2 separate regions of the Homo sapiens genome follow, and region 2 is linked to region 1. The links come from fine-mapping of genetic effects on gene expression. A gene starts in region 1. The other region holds a variant in brackets. All regions are shown on one strand. Distances are from middle to middle. Region 1 holds the start of STARD10 (StAR related lipid transfer domain containing 10). Region 2 has its middle 23 kb from the start of PLEKHB1.

Region 1 (5,374 bases):
TGAGGTCAGGAGTTTGAGACCAGCCTGGCCAACATGGTGAAACCGTGTCTCTACTAAAAATACAAAAAATTAGCCAGGCATGGTAGTGGGCACCTGTAATCCCAGCTACTTGGCAGGCTGAGGCAGGAGAATTGCTTAAACCCAGGAGGCGGAGGTTGCAGTGAGCCAAGATCGCACCCTTGCACTCCAGCCTGGGCAACAAGAGTGAAATTCCGTCTCAAAAAAAAAAAAAGAGGTCCTTTTCCTTCTTTAGCCTCAGTTTCTCTGGCTGAAAAACAGAAATGATAAGTGAAGGCCCAGATAATTAAATGCTTGGAGGTGAATCCAAGATCCACCTCCAGATAATTCCATTGAATTATCTTGGATACCTTTTTGTTGTTGTGTTTTGTTTTGTTTTGTTTTGTTTTGAGACGGAGTTTCGTTCTTGTTGCCCAGGCTGGAGTGCAATGGCACCATCTCGGCCCACGACAACCTCCGCCTCCTGGGTTCAAGCGATTCTTCTGCCTCAGCCTCCCGAGTAGCTGGGACTACCGGCATACACCACCACACCTGGCTAATTTTTTTTTTTTTTTTTTTTTTTTTTGAGACAGAGTCTTACTCTGTCAGCCAGGCTGGAGTACAGTGGCGCCATCTCGGCTCACCGCAAGCTCCGTCTCCCGGGTTCACGCCATTCTCCTGCCCCAGCCTCCCGAGTAGCTGGGACTACAGGTGCCCGCCACAACGCCCGGTTAATTTTTTTTTTTGTATTTTTAGTAGAGATGGAGTTTCTCCACTTTGGTCAGGCTGATCTCAACCCCCAACCTCAGGTGATCCGCTCGCCTCAGCCTCCCAAAGTGCTGAGATTACAGGCGTGAGCCACCGTGCCTGGCCTATCTGGGATATCTTGAAGGATCTTGGATTTCTATTTCTACATATACCTGCCTTTCATGACTTGCCTGGGGAGGCCCAATCTGTAATGAGACCTCAGGGTCTCCCAGCCCTTCCCCCAACCTACCCCCAAAACCTCTAAGAGCACTCTAGAGAGAATCAGCTGCATACAGCCCAGCTCCACCGCTCCAAGGGTCAGAGAAAAGTCCCCTTCCCTGGGGTTAGCTGCATGATCCTGCAGGTGCCATGGTGTGCCTAGGTGCCACCTCGCTTCACCTGGCTGGGGAGTGGCTCCTAGACCTCAGCTCAATGCGCATCACTTCCCCTTCTCATCAGCCAGGCCAGCCCAGGTATCACCTCCAGCTCCACTGCCCCCAGATGGAGTTACCTGAGTACCCAATTCCTCCCAAGCTCAGAAACAGTGTCCACTGCCTTCCCACTCCTTTCCATTCAGAGTCTGTCCCCTTAGTGCTGCCCCCTCATCTGTCACACCTGGGTTCTTTCCCTTACTTGGGCCACTGACCTGAGAAGCAGGGTCTGTACAGCTCCAGCAACACTCTCCTCTTCCTCCAGAATTCTCCAGATCCTCCTCAGCTTCTTGGCTCTGGTGCTCATCTCAACACAGCAGGGTCTTCCTCCATCAGGCCAAGGTGGGGGTAGGAGAAGAATTGGGAACAGGGACTCCCCTAGGTTCTCAGGGTACAGTCAGTCAATCTAAGCCTGTATCCAACAAAGACACTGACCCCTGGGGTACAAGGAAGGGCTCCAGGCCCAAAGGCAGGAGGATTAGGCTTTAGCTCTTGCTCACAGCCTGCTGAGACCTGGGGCAAGCCCCTGTCCCTCTTTGGGCCCTCAGGTTTGCAATTTGCAGAATGAGGAAATGGGTTCCTCAATCTACAATCACCTGACTATAATAATATTTTGCCTTTATATACCGCGTGGGTAAATTCCTGAAAGTAAACTAAGCTGTTTTCACCCCTGGATCTCATTTGATCCTCCCAACAGCCTGTTTGCATTTACAAATGAGAAAGCTCAGTTCCCTAAGGGAACAAAATTACCCAAAGTCACACAGCAAGCTGGAAGCAGAGCCTGGGTGCAGTCCTTGAATCCTGATCCTTCCCTGGTCCTTTACTCTCTATGATGCTGGAAATCTGCCTGACTTCCTCTAACCTGTTGTCCCATTTGTAAAAGGACTGTTGTGAGGACTGAATTAGGAGAGGCGATGAAGAGGGTCATTCCTTGTGAATCATAAAAGAAAGGACCACAGAACGATGACTGGACCGTTAGGTTACTATTTATTACGGTTATCTTCGCTCAGGCGCCCCCACGTGTCGATCCCGAGACTCTCGGCTTGCGCAGGCGCTCTTTGGTGTTTACAGCGGCCGCGAAGCCCCGCGTTTGCGCGTGCGCTTCCCGCCCGGGACCGCCCAGAGGTCCCGGACTAGGGGCGGACTAGGGGCCGCTCTGCCTCCCGCCCCCTAGTGGTTGTGGCCGCTCTGTCACCACGGCTCCCGGGGCCTCTGTCGGCTCCACTTTGGTTGAGACGTCTCCACAGCCCAACAACGGCGGCGATCTGAGGAGAGGCAGGAGAAAATACGGCGCGCTCGGCATCGTCCTTCTGACCGGGGACTCCAGCATCTCAGTCATCGCGTCACCAAGCCCCACGTGCAGGTTCTGGCATCCATCATGGCAAACTGGAGACCGCGGTGAATTCCACCGGAATGGCGCGCGCATTGCCACATGGGAACTGTAGTTCTTGGCTAGGACCTTTCTGGGGCTGGGCCGCTGGAAAAACTACATTTCTCAGGAGCTCAAGAGTCAGGCTGACAGAAAGGGGGCCCGCGGCATGTTGGGAGATGGAGTTTGGGGGGTTCGTGCTAGCAGGGAAACAGTGAAGCAATGGAGCCAAGTGTTCTGAGCCTGGGCCTGTGGGTTTGAGTTGGGCAGGAGTTACACAGTAGCTCTTATAAGAGAGGAGTAGCATTGTTGCGGCTTTTAGAAAGAATGCTACTTATTAGTTGTGTGATCTGAGCGATCAAGACAAATGCCCCTTTATCTTTTTTATTTATTTATTTTTTGAGACAGGGTCTCTGTCTGTCAGGCTGGAGTGCAGTGGCCCCAGAACTGCTGGCCTCCCGCCTCACCCTCCCAAAGTGCTGGGATTATAGGCGTGAGCCATCAGGCCTGGCCAGATGCCTTTTTATCAACTACGATGGACCTTAAGGTTAAGGTTAAGGAAACAAACGTTGCCTACCTCAGGGCTCAGCTGTCAGCTGGCATGGCAACTTCTTAAATTTCTACTGCTGCCAGAAAAACCACACTCTTACTAAACCCCTAGCAATAGGAGCTATCATGCAAATTGTCAGACTCTTCTTTACTGAGATTTACAACTCAGACCACTACAACGCTGATCGACAGAGGACAGGCCTTACAAACATTCTTTCCTGATAAGTAACTGCAGACCTCAGGCCAGTTTCAGCAAGCTCATAGAGACTGCACGCAAACTGTGTTTGTGTCCTATAGTCCACCTTATGATGCAAAGAACCAAATTCCACCTCACTTTAACGCAAAAACCCCATCCCAAAGTGAACATGGAACATATGTTACAGGTGTTTACCCATTGTGCATGCACTCACATCCCCTCATAAATATGTATAGCTTTTCCCCAAAACCTGCTGAATATGTATGATTATTGTGAAATACAGACCCTGTGAGTCATAAACCAGCCTAGGCCGGGAGTGGTGGCTCACGCCTGTAATCCCAGCACTTTGGGAGGCCAAGACGGGCGGATCACGAGGTCAGAAGATTGAGACCATCCTGGCTAACATGGTGAAACCCCGTCTCTACTAAAAATACAAAAAAATTAGCTGGGTGTGGTGGCGGGCGCCTGTAGTCCCAGCTACTCGGGAGGCTGAGGCAGGAGAATGGCATGAACCTGGGAGGTGGAGGTTGCAGTGAGCCGAGATCGCACCACTGCATTCCAGCCTGGGCGACTGAGCGAGACTCCGTCTCAAAAAACAAAAACAAAAAACAACCAGCCTGCCTTTTCCCTATACAAAGAGAGAGCACCTTTGGTACCTACAGGAGAGTGTCTCTTTTCAGTTTGCAAACTGATGTCGCTAATGAAACTGCCCTCTACTATTTAGGCATCCTGGTGTTCTAGAGGGTAGCAGTCTGCACCTCTCACAGGGCTTCCTCTTCCATCACTCCTCAGAGACTGTATTCACAGGGGTCACCTGTGTGTGAGATGCAGTTTGTCTTTTTTGGGGGGAGGGCAGGGGCTGTTCGTTTGTGGTTTTTTTTTTGTTTTTTGTTTTTTTTTTTGAGACGGAGACTTGCTCTGTCATCTAGGCTGGAGTGCAGTGGCATGATCTGGGGCTCACTGCCAGCTCCGCCTCCCGGGTTCATGCCATTCTCCTGCCTCAGCCTCCTGAGTAGCTGGGTCTACAGGCACCCGCCACCACGCCGGGCTAATTTTTTTTTTTGTATTTTTTTAGTAGAGATGGGGTTTCACCGTGTTAGCCAGGATGGTCTCGATCTCCTGACCGTGTGATCCGCCCACCTCGGCCTCCCAAAGTGCTGGGATTACAGGTGTGAGCCACTGTGCCCGGCCTTGTTTTTGTTTTTTTGAGACAGGGTCTCATTCTGTCACCCAGGCTGGAGGCAAGACCATTGTTCACTGCAGCCTGGACCTCCTGGGCTCAATCTATTCTCCCACCTCAACCTCCTGAGTAGCTGTGTTTATAGGCACACACCACTACACCTGGCTAATTTTTTTTTAATTCTCACTTTAATTATGTTTTGCCTTTTTTTTTTTTTTTTTTAGATGGAGTCTTATTCTGTCACCCTGGCTGGAGTGCAGTGGCTCACTGCAACGATCTTGGCTCACTGCAACCTCCGCCTGCCAGGTTCAAGGGATTCTTCTACTTCAGCCTCCCAAGTAGCTGAGATTACAGGCGCACACCAACACGCCCAGCTAATTTTTTTTTTTTTTTTGAGAAGGAGTCTTGCTCTGTCGCTCAGGCTGGAGTGCAGTGTCGTGATCTTGGCTCACTGCAACCTCTGCCTCCTGGGTTCAAGAGATTCTCCCGCCTCAGCCTCCTGAGTAGCTGGGATTACAGGTGCTCACCACCATGCCCAGCAATTTTTTTTTTTGTATTTTTTTAGAGACGAGGTTTCACGCTGTTGGTCAGGCTGGTCACGAACTCCCGATCTCATGATCCACCCACCTCGGCCTCCCAAAGTGCTGGGATTACAGGCGTGAGCCATCATGCCTGGCCTAATTTTTGTATTTTTAGTAGAGATGGGGTTTCACCATGGTGGCCAGGCTGGTCTCAAACTCCTGACCTCAGGTGATCCCCCTGCCTTGGCCTCCCAAAGTGCTGGAATTGCAGGTGTGAGCCACCGCGCCCAGCCTAATTTTTTGTGATTTTTGTAGAGACAGGGTTACGCCATGTTGCCCAGGCTGGTCTCAAACTCTTGAGTTCAAGGGATCCTCCTGCCTTGC
Region 2 (5,374 bases), 880 kb after region 1:
ATAGAAATGGTGGAGTAACAAAGGAAAAAGAAGGAAATGAAAAAATAAAATGAAATTACTCTTTATCCCCCCAGTAAGGGGACAGGTTTTTAGTTCACTTGCAGAAGTTCCTACTTCCTCACTTCAATCCCCTGTCCTCTGTTCTGGCTTTCTCCAAAAACCTCTCCACATTTGTGCTTTCCAGTCACCCCAATGAACAAAGCAATGAGTGCAAATAGATGTTCCCGATGCAGTTTGCTTCAAAATCTCTCCACTAGTAGGACTGCAACATGAATTTTTAATTCTTCCAGCTGTCCAGTAGACAATTTTTAAATTATTCACACACACATTAAGACAGACATTAATCCTCATAGACAAAACACTCTAATCTGGAGGTGGCCTATGGACGACATCTGGCTCACAAATTGTTTTGTCTGGTCAGCACATAGTTTTTAAAAAGTTTTGAATTAAAATGGGCAAAGATGAAAGAGACAGATGACATTAAGTACTGACATGGAGTCTCATACACTTCTGGAATAACTGTAAAGTTAAACTGGTACAATTGCTTTGGAAACTGATTGGTAAGGCCAAGTATATGCATATATTATAACGAATCAATTCTACTCCTAGGGTGCACCCAACAGAAATGTGTACTTACCTTCACCAAAAAGTAGGTAGAAAAGTGTTTATAACAGCAATGGAAAAAACTTAAATTCTACAGGATAAATCTACTGGTAATATTCACAAAATGGAATAATAGTCAACAGAATTAATTATTCACAAGTATATGCAAAATTATGAATGTAATAAAAAATACACCAAAAAAGCAGAGAGGACAGGGAGTGGGGGTGGGACAGTAGAATGATACTCTGGTAAATTTCCTTTCACAAAATACCTTATGTGAAGTAGTACAATATTAAGTATATGCTGATAAGTCAAAGATGCACATTGGAGTCCCTAGATCAACTGGAAGCCAGGTTTCTCAGTGGTGAAGTAGAAATTTACAGATAAGCAAAGGGAGGAAGCTAGAATGATTCATGTGGTAATGGATTACAGTTGGAGACATCAGTATGAACTCATGTCTAGCTTGACATAGAGACGGGATTATATACAGAAATATTTACAGATATGTGTATATACACATCAGTACATACATATATTTCCTTCATCTGCCAGCTGAGAGAGCCTCAAAGAAATGAATACACCTAGGCTGGGCACAGTGGCTCACGCCTGTTATCCCAGCACTTTGGGAGGCCAGGTGGGTGGATAACCTGAGGTCAGGAGTTCAAGACCAGCCTGGCCAACATGGCGAAACTCCATCTCTACTAAAAATACAAAAATTAGCTGGGCGTGGTGGCATGCGCCTGTAATACCATCTACTAGGGAGGCTGAGGCAGGAGAATAATTTGAACCTAAGAGGCAGAGGTTGCAGTGAGCCGTGATCGTGCCACTGCACTCCAGCCTGGCTGACAGAGCGAGACTCTGTCTCAAAAAAACAAAAAATAGCCGGGTGTGGTGGTGGCACGCACCTATAATCCTAGCTACTTGGGAGGCTGAGGCAGGAGAATCACTTGAACCTGGGAGGCAGGGGCTACAGTGAGCCGAGATCACACCATTGCACTCCAGCCTGGGCAACAGAGTGAGACTCTGTGTCCAAAAAAAAAAAAAAAAAGAAAGAAAGAAAAGAAAGAAATGAACACACCTAGCCCCACATCTTTTGTGTTTGTTTGTTTTTTGAGACGGAGTCTCGCTCTGTCACCCAGGCTGGAGTGCAGTGGCATGATCTCAGCTCACTGCAACCTCCGCCTCCCGGGTTCAAGCAATTCTCCTGCCTCAGCCTCCTGAGTAGCTGGGACTACAGGCACGCACCACCATGCCCAGCTAATTTTTGTATTTTTAGTAGCGACGGGGTTTCACCATGTTGGCCAGGATGGTCTCGATCTCTTGACCTCGTGATCCGCCCGCCTCAGCCTCCCAAAGTGCTGGGATTACAGACGTGAGCCACCACACCTGGCCCCACATCTTCATGTCTAATACCAATTCTCCAGTCAAAGAAATCAGCGATCCTTGGAGAAATGGCTGATTACAGGACTGGATAAAGAAGTATCCATGATGAGCCTGGAGCATCATATACTGCCATAAAGAAGAACTCAAAAGACCAAAACAAATGCACATCGATGGGGGTACATCGAAGGGGCAAAAGAACTGAAAGAGCTGGAACAATCTGGGCAACCAAATAAAGTAGTATTAGATTATAACCCAACGTATAAAATAAGTATCCATGAGTCCATACTGATATAAATTACTGAACATTTGAATAAATAAATGGGGGAGAAGAGACAAATCTCCCTTGGAGAATTACAAACAATTTACATAGATATTCCCCCCTAAAGAAGAACAAATCCCAACTCCTTAAGTATGGACTGCACATAGAGATATCCTTTAAAGAACAGAGATGGAGGCCGGGTGCGGTGGCTCACGCCTGTAATCCCAACACTTTGGGAGGCCGAGGCGGGCGGATCACGAGGTCAGGAGATCGAGAACGTCCTGGCTAACACGGTGAAACCCCATCTCTACTAAAAATACAAAAAATTAGCCAGGTATGGTTGCAGGCGCCTGTAGTTCCAGCTACTCAGGAGGCTGAGGCAGGAGAATGGCCTGAACCCAGGAGGTGGAGCTTGCAGTGAGCCGAGATTGCGCGACTGCACTCCAGCCTGGGCAACAGAGCGAGACTCCGTCTCAAGAAAAAAAAAAAAAAAAAAAGAATAGAGATGGAAATGCAGTAGGTGAGAAGGTGACTTTTTTTTTTTTTGGAGATGGAGTCTCACTCTGTCGCCCAGGCTGGAGTGCAGTGGTGTGATCCTGGCTCACTGAAACCTCCGACTCCCTGGTTCAAGCAATTCTCCTGCCTTAGCCTCCGGAGTAGCTGGGATTACAGGC[AC/A]GTGCCACCACGTCCACTTAATTTTTGTATTTTTAGGCGAGAAGGGGTTTCACCATGTTGGCCAGGATGGTCTCAATTTCCTGACCTTGTGATCTGCCCACCTCAGCCTCCCAAAGTGCTGTGATTACAGGCATAAGCCACCGCGCCTGGCCTATATATTCACCTTTTAATGGGCATTTGGGTTGTTTCTAGTTCTTGGCAATACTAGCTACTATGAATTTTGTGTACAAGTTTTTTTGTTTGTTTTTGTTTTGAGACAGGCTGGAATGCAGAGGCAAAATCACAGCTCACTGCAGCCTCGATCTCCCAGGCTCAAGCAATCCTCCCACCTCAGCCTCTCAAGTAGCTGGGATCACAGGTATGTGCCACCACACCTGGCTAATATTTTTATTTTTGTAGAGATGGGGTCTCCCTATGTTGCCCAGGCTGGTTTCAAATTCCTGGGCTCAAGTGATCCTCCCGCCTCAGTCTCCCAGAGTACTGGCATTATGAGCATGAGCCACCACGCTCAGCCTGTGTACAAGTCTTTGTATGGACACATGCTTTCATGTCTTGTGGGTAAATATTGAGGAATGGAATAAATGGGTTATATGACAAACATATTTAACTTTAAATGATGTCAAGCAACTTTTTTTTTTTTTTGAGACACGGTCTTGCTCTTTCACCCAGGCTGGAGTGCAGTGGCCTGATCTCGGCTCACTGAAACCGCCTCCCAGGTTCAAGCGATTCTCCTGACTCAGCCTCCTGAGTAGCTGGGACTACAGGCGTTCGCCACCACGCCTGGCTAATTTTTGTATTTTTAGTAGAGATGGGGTTTCACCACGTTGGCCAGGCTGGTCTCAAACTCCTGACCTCAAAATGATTGAGCTCCACTGCACTCCAGCCTGGGCAACAGAGCAAGACTCTGTCTTAAAAAAAAAAAAAAAAATCATCCCTCAAAGTCTTAACTCTTCTAGCATCAACTCAATCAAAAGTCCAAAGTCCATAGTCTCTTCTGAGACTCAAGGCAAGTTCCTTCCTCGTATGATTTTCTGTAAGATCAAAAACAAGTTATTGGCTCACACTTGTAATCCTAGCACTTTGGGAGGTTAAAGCAGGTGTACTGCTTGAGCCCAGGAGTCCAAGACCAGCCCAAGCAACATAGTGAGACCCCATCTCTACCCAAAATACAAAAATCAGCCACGCATGGTGGCACGTGCCTTGGTCCCAGCTACTTGGGAGGCTGAGGTGGTAAGATTGCTTGAGCCTGGGAGGGAGAGGTTGCAGTGAGCTATCATGCCACTGCACTCCACCCTGGGCGACAGAGCAAGATCCTGTCTAAACAACCACCACCACCACCATCAACCACCCCCCGACCAAAAACACAAGTTATTTACTTTGAAGACACAAGGGTGGTATAGGCATTGAGTAACATTCCCATTCCAAAAGGGAGAAATCAGCCAAAAGAACAAGGCAATAGGCCTGAAGCAAGCCTGAAACCCAGAATGACAGACATTAAACCTTAAAGCTCCAAAATAATCTCCTTTGACTCCATATCCCACATCCAGGGCACATTGATGCAAGGGTTGGCCTCCCAAGTCCTTAGGCAGCTCCACCTCTGTGGCTGCTGTCACAGGTTGGAGTTGAGTGTCTGTGGCTTTTCTAAACTCAGGGTGCAAGCTACTGGTGGCTCTAGCATTCTGCAGTCTGGAGGGCAGTGGCCCCTCTTCCCACAGTTCCACTTGGCATTGCCCTGGTAGTGACTCTTTGTGGGGGCTCCCATACCACATTTCCCCTCTGCACTGCCCTAGTAAAGGCTCCGGTGGGGGCTCTGCCCCGTGGCAGTCTTCTGCCTGGGCACCTAGGCTTTCTCATACATCCTCTGAAATCTCAGTGGAAGCTGCCAAGTCTCCTTCACTCTTGCATTCTTCACAGCTGCAGGCTTAACATCACATGAAAGCCACAAAGGCTTATGGCTTGCGCCCGCTGGAACACCGCCTCGAGCTATATCTGGGGCCCTTTGAGCAGTGTCCTGAGGCTGTGCAGGCCCTGGGCCTGGGCCCTGAAACCATTCTTTCCTCCTAGGTCTCTGATGGGAGGGACTGGCCCAAAGACTTCTGAAATGGCTTTGAGGCCTTTTCCCACTGTCTTGACTATTAGCACTTGGCTCCCTTTTAGTTATATAAATTTCCCTAGCAAGCTGTTGCTTGTATTCCTCTCCTGAAAATGCTTTTTCCTTCTCTACCACAAGGCTAGGATATACATTTTCCAAATTTTAATGCTCCTCTTCCCATTTAAATATATCTTCTAACTTTAAGATATTCCTTTGCTCCCATATCTGATTGTAGGCTGTGAGAGGCAGGCATGGCACATCTTGAATGCTTTGCTGCTTAGAAATTTCTTCAGCTAGACACCCTAGCTGAAGGTCATCACTGTTTTTTTATTTTTTTGAGACGGAGTCTCACTCTGTCGTCC

Evidence for each region.
Region 2: its variant is fine-mapped to the expression of STARD10 in amygdala (GTEx, PIP above 0.99).

What each region holds. Positions count from the first base shown.
Region 1 is chr11:72,791,485-72,796,858 of GRCh38, forward strand. It overlaps STARD10 (StAR related lipid transfer domain containing 10), which reads right to left and starts at 2,563. Exons shown (of 7, transcript NM_006645.3): 1 at 1,391-2,563. RefSeq lists enhancers at 688-1,187, 2,319-2,888.
Region 2 is chr11:73,667,096-73,672,469 of GRCh38, forward strand. No RefSeq gene overlaps it. Among named protein-coding and RNA genes, the nearest start is that of PLEKHB1, 23 kb to the left of the region's middle. The variant AC/A (reference allele first, on the strand shown) is at 2,920.